Homo sapiens: one gene and its partners. The protein of the gene in region 2 purifies or fractionates together with the protein of the main gene of each other region. This does not show direct contact. Each region holds a gene or a part of one and is shown on either strand. Other genes may lie near its edges.

Region 1 (3,650 bases), on a different chromosome or scaffold from region 2:
TTATTATTACACATTTCAATCAGTAATTATTTATAGTGATTTTAGAGTTTTTAAGCTCATGATCTTATTTTGTACTGTTTTTACTGTTTACAAATACACATTAAACTAAAGAAGACAGAGAGATGGTATCTATCTAAATTTACCTGCATTGGGATTAGTATCATTTTATCCAAAACAACAAATTATAAACCACATATGAAAAGTCGGTTGAAGTGAATACAACTCTTTGAAGCAGTACTTGATTTTATGCATGTGTTCCCCTCAAATTAGATGTAAATCAAAAGTGGGGAGAACACACTCTTTGTTAAGGGTCCTAAGGAAGCTTGCTAATTAGAGATTCCTACATGAACAGCATGGATGCCAGCCTGCTCAGCTGGTACTAGCTTTCCCACACATTGTATCAGAGTTTTGCCAGTAAGATAGAACAGCTGATTCTTTGGGAATGAAAACTTTAAATAGCGAATAATTTGTCTCTTTTATGATACAGTCTATAGCTATAGTTCATTATAATAAAGAAACACCACCCTATTGAGAAGAAATGTGTCATTTCTTTTAGCAGTATGGATTTGTAATGTGTATCACAGTATGTACTATTAAAAAACAAGACAGTATGTTTTGGGAAGGGAAAACAATTGTTGAAGATAAGCGTCAACTATTTGAAATGGGAACAAATATGGACATAAACAAATTTTATGTGCAACATAAGCACCCTTTTAATTTCAGAAACCTCACTTTCCATTTAAAAACATGTCTTCTTATTGTTGAAGATCCAGCATATGTATCAATTTTCAAGCTGCCATCCTATTTCATACAGATCTTAAAAAATGGCCAGGTTTCTAATTCTCTCTCCTTACCCTTACTGAATTTCAACATGGTGCCCCCTCCAAATATATGATGTTGGTTTGTGCAGCTGGCCATGGTGGCTCACGCCGGTAATCCCAGCACTTTGGGAGGCTGAGGCAGGCGGATTGCCTGAGGTCGGGAGTTCAAGACCAGCCTAGCCAGCACGGTGAAACCCCGTCTCTACTGAAAATACAAAAATTAGCCGGGCATGGTGGCATGCACCTGTAATCCCAGCTACTCGGGAAGCTGAGGCAGGAGAATCACTTGAACCCGGAAGGCAGAAGTTGCAGTGAGCCAAGATCGTGCCAATGTGCTCCAGCCTTTTATTAAGACAGAGCGAGACTCCATCTCAATACATAAATAAATAAATAAATTTGTGCTTCTGAAGTAAAAAAAAAAAAATCCATATTTTTTAAATAAAAATTGTACTTAAGAGAATTAAGAATTCTTGCCTCTTTGATATGTAGTTCCTCTCTCCAAGAACTACTGGGGTCCGCTACCCTAACCTAGAGCCATCCTTCCTGAGAGAAATGCAGAAAAAATCCAACAGATGTTCAAAACAGCACACCCAATGGCTTTCCTGCCAGTCTCACTAAAGGTATCTTTTGCCTTTGATCCACTTCAAATGTTGACATTTGTCCATTTAAAGAGTACCAGCCAGTATGGACAAGTTCTCCATCTATGGAAAGAACATACACATTCTCTCTTATAAATCTTGCTGTTCCAAATCTATGGCCCTCCTACTCTTAAAAACCCTGCCTTTCCCTGAAGGCTGATTTAGTGTAGACTAAGATTACAGAAATAGCAAAGCCTCTGTGGAGATTGGAAAAGTCAGCTACACCTCCTCCCCATCTAAAAAAATCAACTAAGTTTAGCCGTAACGCATTGGTAATGAGAACAATACCGATAATTCTGGACTGTCTATGGCAATGAACACTTGGAAAGCCCAGAAGGGACACTGAAAATCAACAGACTGGCAACTCACACTTCCACGTGAAACTCTGGGAGCCTGTATGATGAAGTCAGACTACTTCGCTAATAGACAATTAGGCTTAAGAAATCCGAGTTGTTGGAGAAGTGAATAAGCATGTGGATAAAAGAAAAAAGTGATGTCAGCACTACATTTTTCTAAACCCGTAATAATTTTAAAATAATGCTTACCTTTTCTAATTATGAAATTAGTAAATGGTCAAAATAAATACTTTTAAAATGGCATAGGATGACGCAGTGGCTCACGCCTGTAATCCTAGCACTTGGGAGGCCAAGGCAGGCGGATCACTTGAGCTCAGGAGTTCGAGACCAGCCTGAGCAACATGTCAAAACTCCGTCTCTACTAAAAAATACAAAAATAAATAAATAAATAAAATAGCCACGCATGGTGGCACGCACCTGTAGTCCCAGCTACTCAGGAGGCTGAGGCAGGAGAATCGCTTGAACTGGGGAGGCAGAGGTTGCAGTGAGCCGAGATCGCGCCACTGCACTCTAGCCTGGGCAACAGAGTGAGACTCTGTCTCAAAAAAATAAAAATAAATGATACAAAAAATATAGAGATAAAAACACTTGAGAATCACATCACCCTGATACTGTTGTTAAGTTTCACTGATTTTCCTTTTTTCTCAACTAACATACATACTCTGAGGGGAAGAAAAAGGAGGGGAGCAATCCGTCCCTCCCTGCCTTCTGTGAGCACTGTACTGAGCACTGCTACTGACCTGGCCCATGCCAGTCCCAAGAACAATCCTTCAGAGGAGCGCCGCTCCCTATTTCACCAACATGGACACTGGGGCCCGGCCCAGGCACTCCCAGATGTGCAGTCCTCCAGGCAGTGTGGTTTGGGGGCTTGACATTTGTTATCTTGTGACTTTTAAAATAATTCTTGAGTTTAAAAACTCCCAGAGATTTCTTTGTCATAAGACAGGAAGTAGATTAAAGACAGAGAACAAAGGAGAGGGCCAGACACTTCCCTGGGTAAGAGAACCAATGGTGGGCTCGGGTCCTCCTCAGGGAACACCTTACTTAGTGTTTTCTGAGAAGGAAAAGTGACATCTCCAGGGTACTCAGGCTAGAGGAGGAGAATGACAATCAAACATGGACAGACTGCAGGAAGCCTCTGAAGTGAGGCCGTCAGATGCCTTTACTCTGGGAGATGCAAGTGATATTCACTCAGGGACATTTGCTCAGGCCTCCCCTATAAAGGGGTGGCTAACATCTAATCCACTCTGGAGCTGGGTGTTCACTATTTCCAGAGATGCCAATGTGAGGCCCTGCGTCAGCTTCAAAGAAGCCTCTGGACACTGTCCCCAACCACACCCCCTGCTCCTAGGCCAGTACCTGGCACTTCAGAGTCCTGAACGCACAATCACAACCAGCTGAGTGATCCGACAAGAAACGAGTGGAATGAATGCACGAGGTAAATAAAATGTACGTCACAGACAATTGTGGAAGCCACACTTCATGAAAAAGATAACGGCACTGCACAAAAGAGCAAAAGAGGCAAGTGAAACGCACAAGGAAATGAGGTGGCCGTGGGCACCCACGATGAGGCAGCAACCTGCATTTCTAATAGCACTGGGGTGAGCGTGGAGGAGATAGTGCTCTCTACGCAGGGCCTCTGATCACAGAGCGTGAAGACTCCCTTTTAAGCCCTTAGAGGTGAAACATAAGAAAAGCAAAAGGGCCTGCCAAGTTCATGCAGTGAGTAGCCAGTTTCTGGAACTTGCTGCCTGAAAAAGGAAGTAGGAAAGACTGGAAATCGGTTCAGACAGCAGACCCCGAAGTAATTATGACCACTTATGTGCCCCTCCTTG
Region 2 (4,282 bases):
CGCCATCTTCTTTGTTCCTAGGCTGAGCCTGTGGTGCCCTGGGCAGGGTGGGTGGAGGAAGCAGCAGGGAGGCTCCTTAATGGTGGAGTGAACACCCACACGGATGTCTCTGGATAGTGGAATGCGGAGGATGCAGGGCACGCCGGTGGAGAGCTGCCCAGCCGTGCCAGCAAGGCCCCGGCATCCCTCCCACCTGCCGTTAGCACCGGGAGCTGCTCTGCTGGCCCCTCCCACAGACTCGGGCTCTGGAGGTCTACAGAGCAGCTGGGAGGGTGATGCCTAGGCGGGGGCGGAGATGCCAGGCCCCTGGGCTGCAGGTGGAGGTAAATGGGGAAGGGAGGCTGGGGGTCTCTGGGCCTTTCGCCAGCAGCCGCCCAGCCCAGGGTCTCTGATGCCAGGGAGGTCCATGTGTGCTCGGCCCCTCCTCTGAGCCCCTCAGCCCAGCCTTGTTTCTGCCTCCATGGCTATGGGGCCTGCACCCATCCGAGCCAGGCACTGGCTAGGGCAGGGAGGCTGCCTTGGGCTGGGGCCAGTCCCGGAATCCAGGCTCAGCTGGCACCGACAGGGAGGGGTTGTGGGAAGGTGACCAGCCGTGTGGAGAGCTTGGCGTCGGAGGGCATGGTGGGCACCAGCGCTGGTGGGATGTGGCGAGGGTGGTGGTGACTCATGGCGCGTGGCCCGTAGCTCTGAGGAGCATTTGCGTTTTCCTGTGGATTCACTGTAGCGCCTGGTCACAATGTTGCAGCATTTCCCTGGCTGCTTGTCTCGGAATTAATATCTATTTCCTGAAAAGAGAAATGAACTTTCTTGCAGTAAAATCTAAACAAATATTTATATTTATTTTCCACCTCCATGTCCTGTTTCAAACTTATTGTCCAGCCCAAGATTTTAAAAAGTCAGATTTTCTTTTGGTGTGAAGCAGGCTCAGGAGGAGGAGGAGGGGGAGGAAGAAGAGGAGGACGAGGAGGGGGAGGAAGCTGGGAATTGGGCTGAGCTTTCCTCGCTCATCCTTGCAGTGGCCACAGGGCCCTCTGCCCTCTCGTCTGCGTCAGGTCCTGAGTTCTGAGTCCAGAAGCCGTCGCTGTGCTGTTGGAGCCCACCAAGCCCGTCCCTTGTGGGGACAGCTCCCTCCAAGCCCCCCGGGGGGATGGACACTGAGGGTGGGGCAGGGGAGCAGGGGTAGGCCCCAGGCAGGTCCTCCCAGGGCCTGGGGAACACAGGGGCCCATCGAGGGCTCCCCAGACTCCCTCAGCCAGTTCTTCCCGAGAACAGAACAGTTAAAACCAAGCCCTCCGATGGAGGTGCGGGGAGAGGGCGTGGCTCCCGTCCCAGGAGGCAGGTGAGCTTCTGGGGATTCCAGTTCACCTGCCCCACAGCCGCACCCTGCCTGTGCCTGCACCCTGGGGAGCCCAGAGCCGGCAGGGGCCGAGGCGGTGGGACCTCGGGGGAGCTCAAGCCTCGACTGTCCCCTCGCTGGAGGCCAGAGGCCAAGATGATGTCCATGCTGGGCGGCTTGCAGAGGTAAGGGGGGCAGTTGGACCCCCCAGGTGGACAAAGCGCTTCATCTGTGGCTATTCTGAGAGACGGACAGGAGTGGGTTTTGTTTGTCTTTCGAAGGAAGTGACTTGGATTTGGAGGCTGTTCCTACTCAGGCTTCCCTGAATTCACCTGTCTTGGCTTCGTTTCGGAAGTAGGGGGCCCCTCCTGCCCAGGCCTGGTGCTGCTTCTGGGTGTTTGGGGGTTCTGGGATGTGGGGCCCAGTGAGAAAGCTGCCCCCCAACACTGTGGCGTGGAGACGCTCGAGTGTCCGCGTGACGGCTGGGGAGGGTGAGACCTGCTGGGCTTGGGACCTCCCAGCCTCGGTCTGCGGCTCAGGCCCATGGCTGGGCCGTGTTGGTGGGAGTGCCAGGCGCTTGCTGGAGCGTTGGTCATGCGTGCGCTTCAGGATGCTCCCGGGGCTCTGGGTGGTGACGGGGAGGCTGGGCTCTGCTGTGCTGTCTCCCTTCTGTAAACAGAGGGGAGGTGGATTTCTTCCCAGTTAGGTTTGGAGGGGTGGTGGGTGTGGCTAAGGATGCCTTGCGTTTTCCTTCTCCTGCTCGCCATCCTGTTTGGGGTGATTCCAGGGCAGTTTGAAGCCGTCCCTGCGCTGGCAGGTCCCTGCCTCCCCGGGGCGTGTGCCGCCATGAATTCAGTTACCTTCCTTTAAGGGGTGACTTAAGACCAGCTGCCAGGACACTGGCTGAGGACACCCCGTCACAGGGCTGAGAGGTGTGGGGCCGGCTGCCTGGCCTGGACCATCCTAGATGCCCCCTCCTGTGGACATTGTGACCATATTGTGAAGAAGAGGCCCAGGGGCTGGGGAATCAGGCTCACTTGATTAGCTGGTGGCCAAGCTAGGGCCCCCCTGGCTGCCCTGGGGCCCCCCGAGGTCGGCCAGGGCGGGTGTGCCTGACCCCAGCTGAGACTCTGTGGGTGAGACATGGGAGGCATTGCAGCCGAAGGCCCTCGGGGAGCCCAGGGCACAGGCTCCTCAGCTGCTGGTCTCACTGCCTGGCAGGATGGGCTCACTGCAGCAGCCCATGCAGGCTGCACGTCCCACACTAAGGCCAGGGAGCTTTGGCTCCGGGTGTCCCAGGCTTCATTGAGCACGGCCTGCAGGAGGGAAGCCCCGAGTCACTTCCCCACAGCCCTGGACAGCAGCCTTCCTGAGCCTCGCATTTATTTTCCTGGGGTTGGGCAAGTGTGGGAGGCTCACCTCGCTTGTGTCAGCTTGCTTGGCCTGTGGGTGGAACAAATCAACAGCCCTGGGGACAAAGGGGACGGTAGTGTGTGGTGCCACTGGCACCCACCTGGGTGATTCAAGGAGCTGCCCAGAACAGAGGAGAGACTTTGCCTGCGCTAGTGAGGCCTAGTCTTGACCACCGGCCACGGGAAATCCAGGCCGCCGGGCAAAGTGCTCACTTGGATGCTTGCTGATCTTTTGTTTTGCTGGTGATGATTCAGGCACAAAACTCTGAGCTATGGCACTTGGGGGTGTTGCCTCCCTGGGGTGTGGCCAGGTATCTTTGGGGAGGAGGGGACTCATGATCAGAGAAGATGTGGTACAGAGCCCATGGGGGTCACCATGCCGGTGTGAACCCCCAAAATCTGAGACAGGTCTCGGTTAATTTAGAAAGCTTACTTTGCCAAGGGTGAGGACGTGCACCCATGACCCAGCCTCAGGAGGTCCTGATGACGTGTGCCCAAGGTGGTCAGGGCACAGTCTGGCTTTATACATTGTAGGGAGACATGAGACATCAGTCCGCATATGCAGGACGAACATTGGTTCGGTCTGGAGAGGCAGGACGGCTCGAAGCAAAGGCAGGAAGACTCCAAGTGGGGAGGGGACTTCCAGGTCACAGGCAGGTAAGAGACAAATGGTTGCATTCTTTTGAGTTTCTGATGAGCCTCTCCAAAGGAGGCAGTCAGATACGCATTTATCTCAGTGAGCAGAGGGGAGACTTTGAATACAATGGGGGGCAGGTTTGCCCTGAGCAGTTCCCAGCTAGACTCCTCCCTTTAGCTTGTAGTGATCTGGGGGCTCAAGATCTTTTCCTTTCACATTTCCCCCCATTTTCTCTTTAAAATCTTGGAGAAAGCTCTCCAAGATTTTAGAAGAAAATGAGTCTCTGGTCCCAGGTTTTGTCTTATCTCTCATGGCTAGGATAGTTTATTTCTAGACGGGCAGGTCCTGAGTTACTAGGAAAGCTCATTTTTTTTTTTTTTTTTTTTTTTTTTTTTTTTTTTTTGAGACGGAGTCTCGCTCTCTCTCCCAGTCTGGAGTGCAGTGGAGCGATCTCGGCTCACTGCAAGCTCCGCCTCCCGGGTTCACGCCATTCTCCCGCCTCAGCCTCCCGAGTAGCTGGGACTACAGGCGCCCGCCACCTCGCCCAGCTAATTTTTTGTATTTTTAGTAGAGATGGGGTTTCACCGTGTTAGCCAGGATGGTCTCCATCTCCTGACCTCGTGATCCGCCGGCCTTGGCCTCCCAAAGTGCTGGGATTACAGGCGTGAGCCACCGTGCCCGGCCCTGGGAAGTTCATTTTTTAGCAGGTTGTGAAGTGTCAAGTCCTAGGAAGACAAAATAGGAGAAGGAAGGAGAAAAACAACAACAAAGAAAAGAGCAATCCTGGAAAATCGATACAGGCCACACTACTCTGAAGTCCAAACATCAGTAGGCAAACATGAAAGTGGCTTATGTGGCCGGGCGCGGTGGCTCACACCTGTAATCCCAGCACTTTGG
Region 3 (3,650 bases), on a different chromosome or scaffold from region 2:
TATCTTACTCTGAAATCTGTTACTGCTGGCTGGTTAGGGTAATGTGTTGAGGAATCACAACAAAGCTCAGAGATGAAGTATGCTGTGTGGATTCACCATGTCTATAATGGGAAAAAGAAAGTGGTGGTATCTGTGTTGAGAATATGCTAACCTTGTTTTTATAGATTTTCCCTTAATCTCATAACTATTTCCTAAAATTTACTTTCTGTCATGGTGGGTTCAAATACACAACGTACACAATGACAAAAACTCCTCTGTGGTAGATACTTCTCTAACAAAACTTTAATGAAATATGGTATATTATAAAAGATTATTAGGTGTGACATTTGTAAATTATACCTAAAATAATATATTCTAGTTAAATGGACATAAGAAGAAAATCCACAGGTTGGATCTATATAGTGATTACCATGTAAGTGCTTGCTTGTATCAAAATATCAGTATAGTGATTTATTCTTTTATTTTCCCCTAGAAAATGATTACTACTACTGTATTAATTTCCTAAGGCCTGATCATTCTCTGAGAAATGGCAAATTCCAAAATTTTAAATAAATTAAACATTAATAATGCTTTTCAATAACATAATTTGTGTCAAAACCACTGTTTAAAAATAAAATAAATTTTGTCATCTGGTCTATTTTATAAAAAATTTAGTGCTAATTTTTGTTTCTGAATGGATGTCTTTATACTCTGAAGATTTATAGGCATTATTTTTTAGCATTATTCTATTGCTCTTCTTAATGGAACACCTAAGAAATAACATTTATGTAATAGGATATATATTAATTTTTTACTATAGTTATAAACATTAACTGTAAGAATACAGTGCATTTTATTTAGTTTTTAAGGAGATTTATTTTTCGTACACAAGTGATCAATTTGTCACAACATGACAAGTTATTGATAACAAGTATTTTAACTTACAGGTATGATAAAAGTCTAACATTTACAAAATGGGGATATTACTATATAAAAAATTGAAAGTATTAGTTTTTATGTAAAATATTAGTTTCTTCATTCTGATACAGTGCTAAACTTAATGTAAAGCCAAACTTCAGGACCTACTCTAGACATAAAATAATTTTCATTTCCATGTCTCTAGAATCTAAAATGCTAAGTAAATTTTCTCTATTACTTTTCGTCAAAATAACTTAAAGTATTAAAAGACAACCTAATGACAGTAATAACATTTTTCTTTCCTAAAAAATATTTGGTATCTGATTTAAAGACATGAATAACACAATAGTAACAACTTAAAGATCGACAAGATATACTAAAAATGATATTTGGGCATCATATCTACATAATAATTGTGAAACAACTGTTTTCCTAATAACTGAGAAGCAATCAGTAACTTTTTCATAAAAGGACTTTCATAGCTTCTAAAATATGGAATTCAGCACTGTAAAGCAGAAACACTAAACATGTCAAAACACCTAGCGTGGTATAGGTAACCACAAATCTGCAAATGACACACTGTGCTGTAGATAGCAGGCCGTCCTAACACAATTTGGTCATGGTAAGGTTTAATTTATGTAATTAAATTAAATAAAAAATAAGAGTATTAATTTAAAGCCATTTCAGGTTCACAGCAAAATTGAGAGGAAGGTACAGTGATTTTGTTATTCTTAAGAATTTCCTCATTATTGTAGAGTTATCCAGAGTCTAAATACTAAGACAATAAAGTTGATTAAATTATTTTAAAGACATGACATGAAGCATGTACATTATCTTTAAGGGGTTTTCTTTTTTTCTTCAATAGATATCCCAAATATACACACAATCCTATTTATTTGGGTCTAGGATGTAAATATAATTTAACTGTGTGCTAAGTGCTTTAGGTAGCACAAGCATTTATCTATTGTAAAATGAAAATTCAATTGCCATCAAATCAGAATTTTGATTTCAGTCAGAAATGCAATAAATTATGCCATAAGGAATATATTTGTATACATTTTGTCTCAGATATTTTCTCATGTGGTATTGTGAAGGGTAACAAGTATAATATTATCTGTAAAGAATTTAAAAAAATATTTTTAAATATAACTAATAGTATATACTGATTTTGACAGTTTTCTTTCCAGAACTCAAAACGAAAGCTATTTTTAAAAATTAGGTGATTTTGATAACTATTAAACTTTAATCAATGCATTAAGAAACAGGCAGCTGGCGATCTAATGCATAAGTTGCTCTTTCCTTACTGTATTTTTCAGACCACTTGCGAGTCAGTTCTAGGTAAAGACCTGGTTTATGAGGACGGTAATCTAGGTACACTGTATTACTGGTTCTTTTGGGAACAGCTTTTTCAATCTGAGTTCCTTCATGCCACTCATTAAAAGAGGTGATAGAAATTAAGCTGGGGCGTGTCTGAAGTGCGGCACTCAGACCAATTTCATAATACTTCCCATTGATTCGGTTCCGAGTGTTTTGCGTGTTCCATGGACGGATGCTGGTATCTATGTATCCTGGGCCCACACTTGGGATAAATATTAAGTTGTATTTATCACAAAATAATTTTAGGCTAGCCCAATTCTGATGTGATGAGCCATAAGTAAAGCCATTTGTGGCAAAATATGTGTAAATTCCATCAAAACCACTTTGAAGAATATCATACTTATGTTTTTCTTCTACCAGAAGGGCAATAAACAGTCCATCATAAGGAGAATTGCGAATACTCCGAGACCCTGAGGTGGTTAACAGATTGGCCCATTTTTCAGGCTTGGTAATATAGGAATCATAGACATAAAACATAGGAAGAGCATTGCCAGTCTTCGTCTTGTACCTGTAAAAGGCCGGATGATTTCCATATCTAGAAAATAAGCATATATAAAAGTGAAATGAATATTCACAACTAATTTGCCACAGACAAAAACTGTTTACTGAAAATGAAGGAGTCAGTGCAGTTTGAGCACACTGCTCCATTTCTTAGGGGAATCAGTTGTGTAAGTGTAATAATTAAAAATGCATTTTTAATTTTACACATTAGAAAATGAGATACTGGATGCATTACCAAACAAGTATTAACCATCTCATATTGAGGTTTACAAATGATGACTAATGCCATAAAAAGCCTATGTCTCTACATTATAAATAATACTCTACATAATACCTAAACTGCTTTTTTATCTATCAGTGATAAATGTTCTACTGTTGCTGACAAGTTTCTTTGTAAGACTATGGCATCTGTCACAGACTATTATCAGTAAAATTCTTTCAAAAAATGAAAACTGTATTAATAAATTCTTTTTGATCAGGCTAGATATAAATGAAAATATCAGCTCTGGGTCTACTGTGTTAAAAGAAGTAGTTCACTTTTAATAATCTGAACCTTCTTTTTAAAAAGATAAAGCTATATTCTGAAGGTTTAGAAAATAATGTCATTTTAAAATATCAAAACTACAGAAATCATAAATAGCCTATAAACCTGTAAAACAGTAAAAACAGCAATCTTCCAAAAAGAAAGTGAATTATAAGAAACTTCAGCAATGTTCTTCGAAATGATGGTGACATTCATTACAATAACAATTTAATTTTATTAAAAATGGAATAATCATAAATCATTCAAATCTCAAATATAATTTAATGTACTATTCTTAAAACAATAATTATCACTGGATAATATAACAATATTTATAAATATTGAAGAAACT

The links.
Region 1: the proteins of GAL3ST2 (region 2) and STX16 purify together in Homo sapiens (affinity purification with mass spectrometry; one large-scale study listed by BioGRID and IntAct). This does not show direct contact.
Region 3: the proteins of GAL3ST2 (region 2) and MANEA purify together in Homo sapiens (affinity purification with mass spectrometry; one large-scale study listed by BioGRID and IntAct). This does not show direct contact.

What each region holds. Positions count from the first base shown.
Region 1 is NC_000020.11:58,661,236-58,664,885, reverse strand, and holds part of STX16 (syntaxin-16), read right to left. Parts: intron 1-3,650. UniProt on the Homo sapiens protein: SNARE involved in vesicular transport from the late endosomes to the trans-Golgi network.
Region 2 is NC_000002.12:241,775,464-241,779,745, forward strand, and holds the start of GAL3ST2 (galactose-3-O-sulfotransferase 2), read left to right. Parts: upstream 1-1,358; 5' UTR 1,359-1,492; coding exon 1,493-1,521; intron 1,522-4,282. UniProt on the Homo sapiens protein: Transfers a sulfate group to the hydroxyl group at C3 of non-reducing beta-galactosyl residues. Acts both on type 1 (Gal-beta-1,3-GlcNAc) and type 2 (Gal-beta-1,4-GlcNAc) chains with similar efficiency.
Region 3 is NC_000006.12:95,604,907-95,608,556, reverse strand, and holds part of MANEA (glycoprotein endo-alpha-1,2-mannosidase), read right to left. Parts: intron 2,810-3,650; coding exon 2,152-2,809; 3' UTR 1-2,151.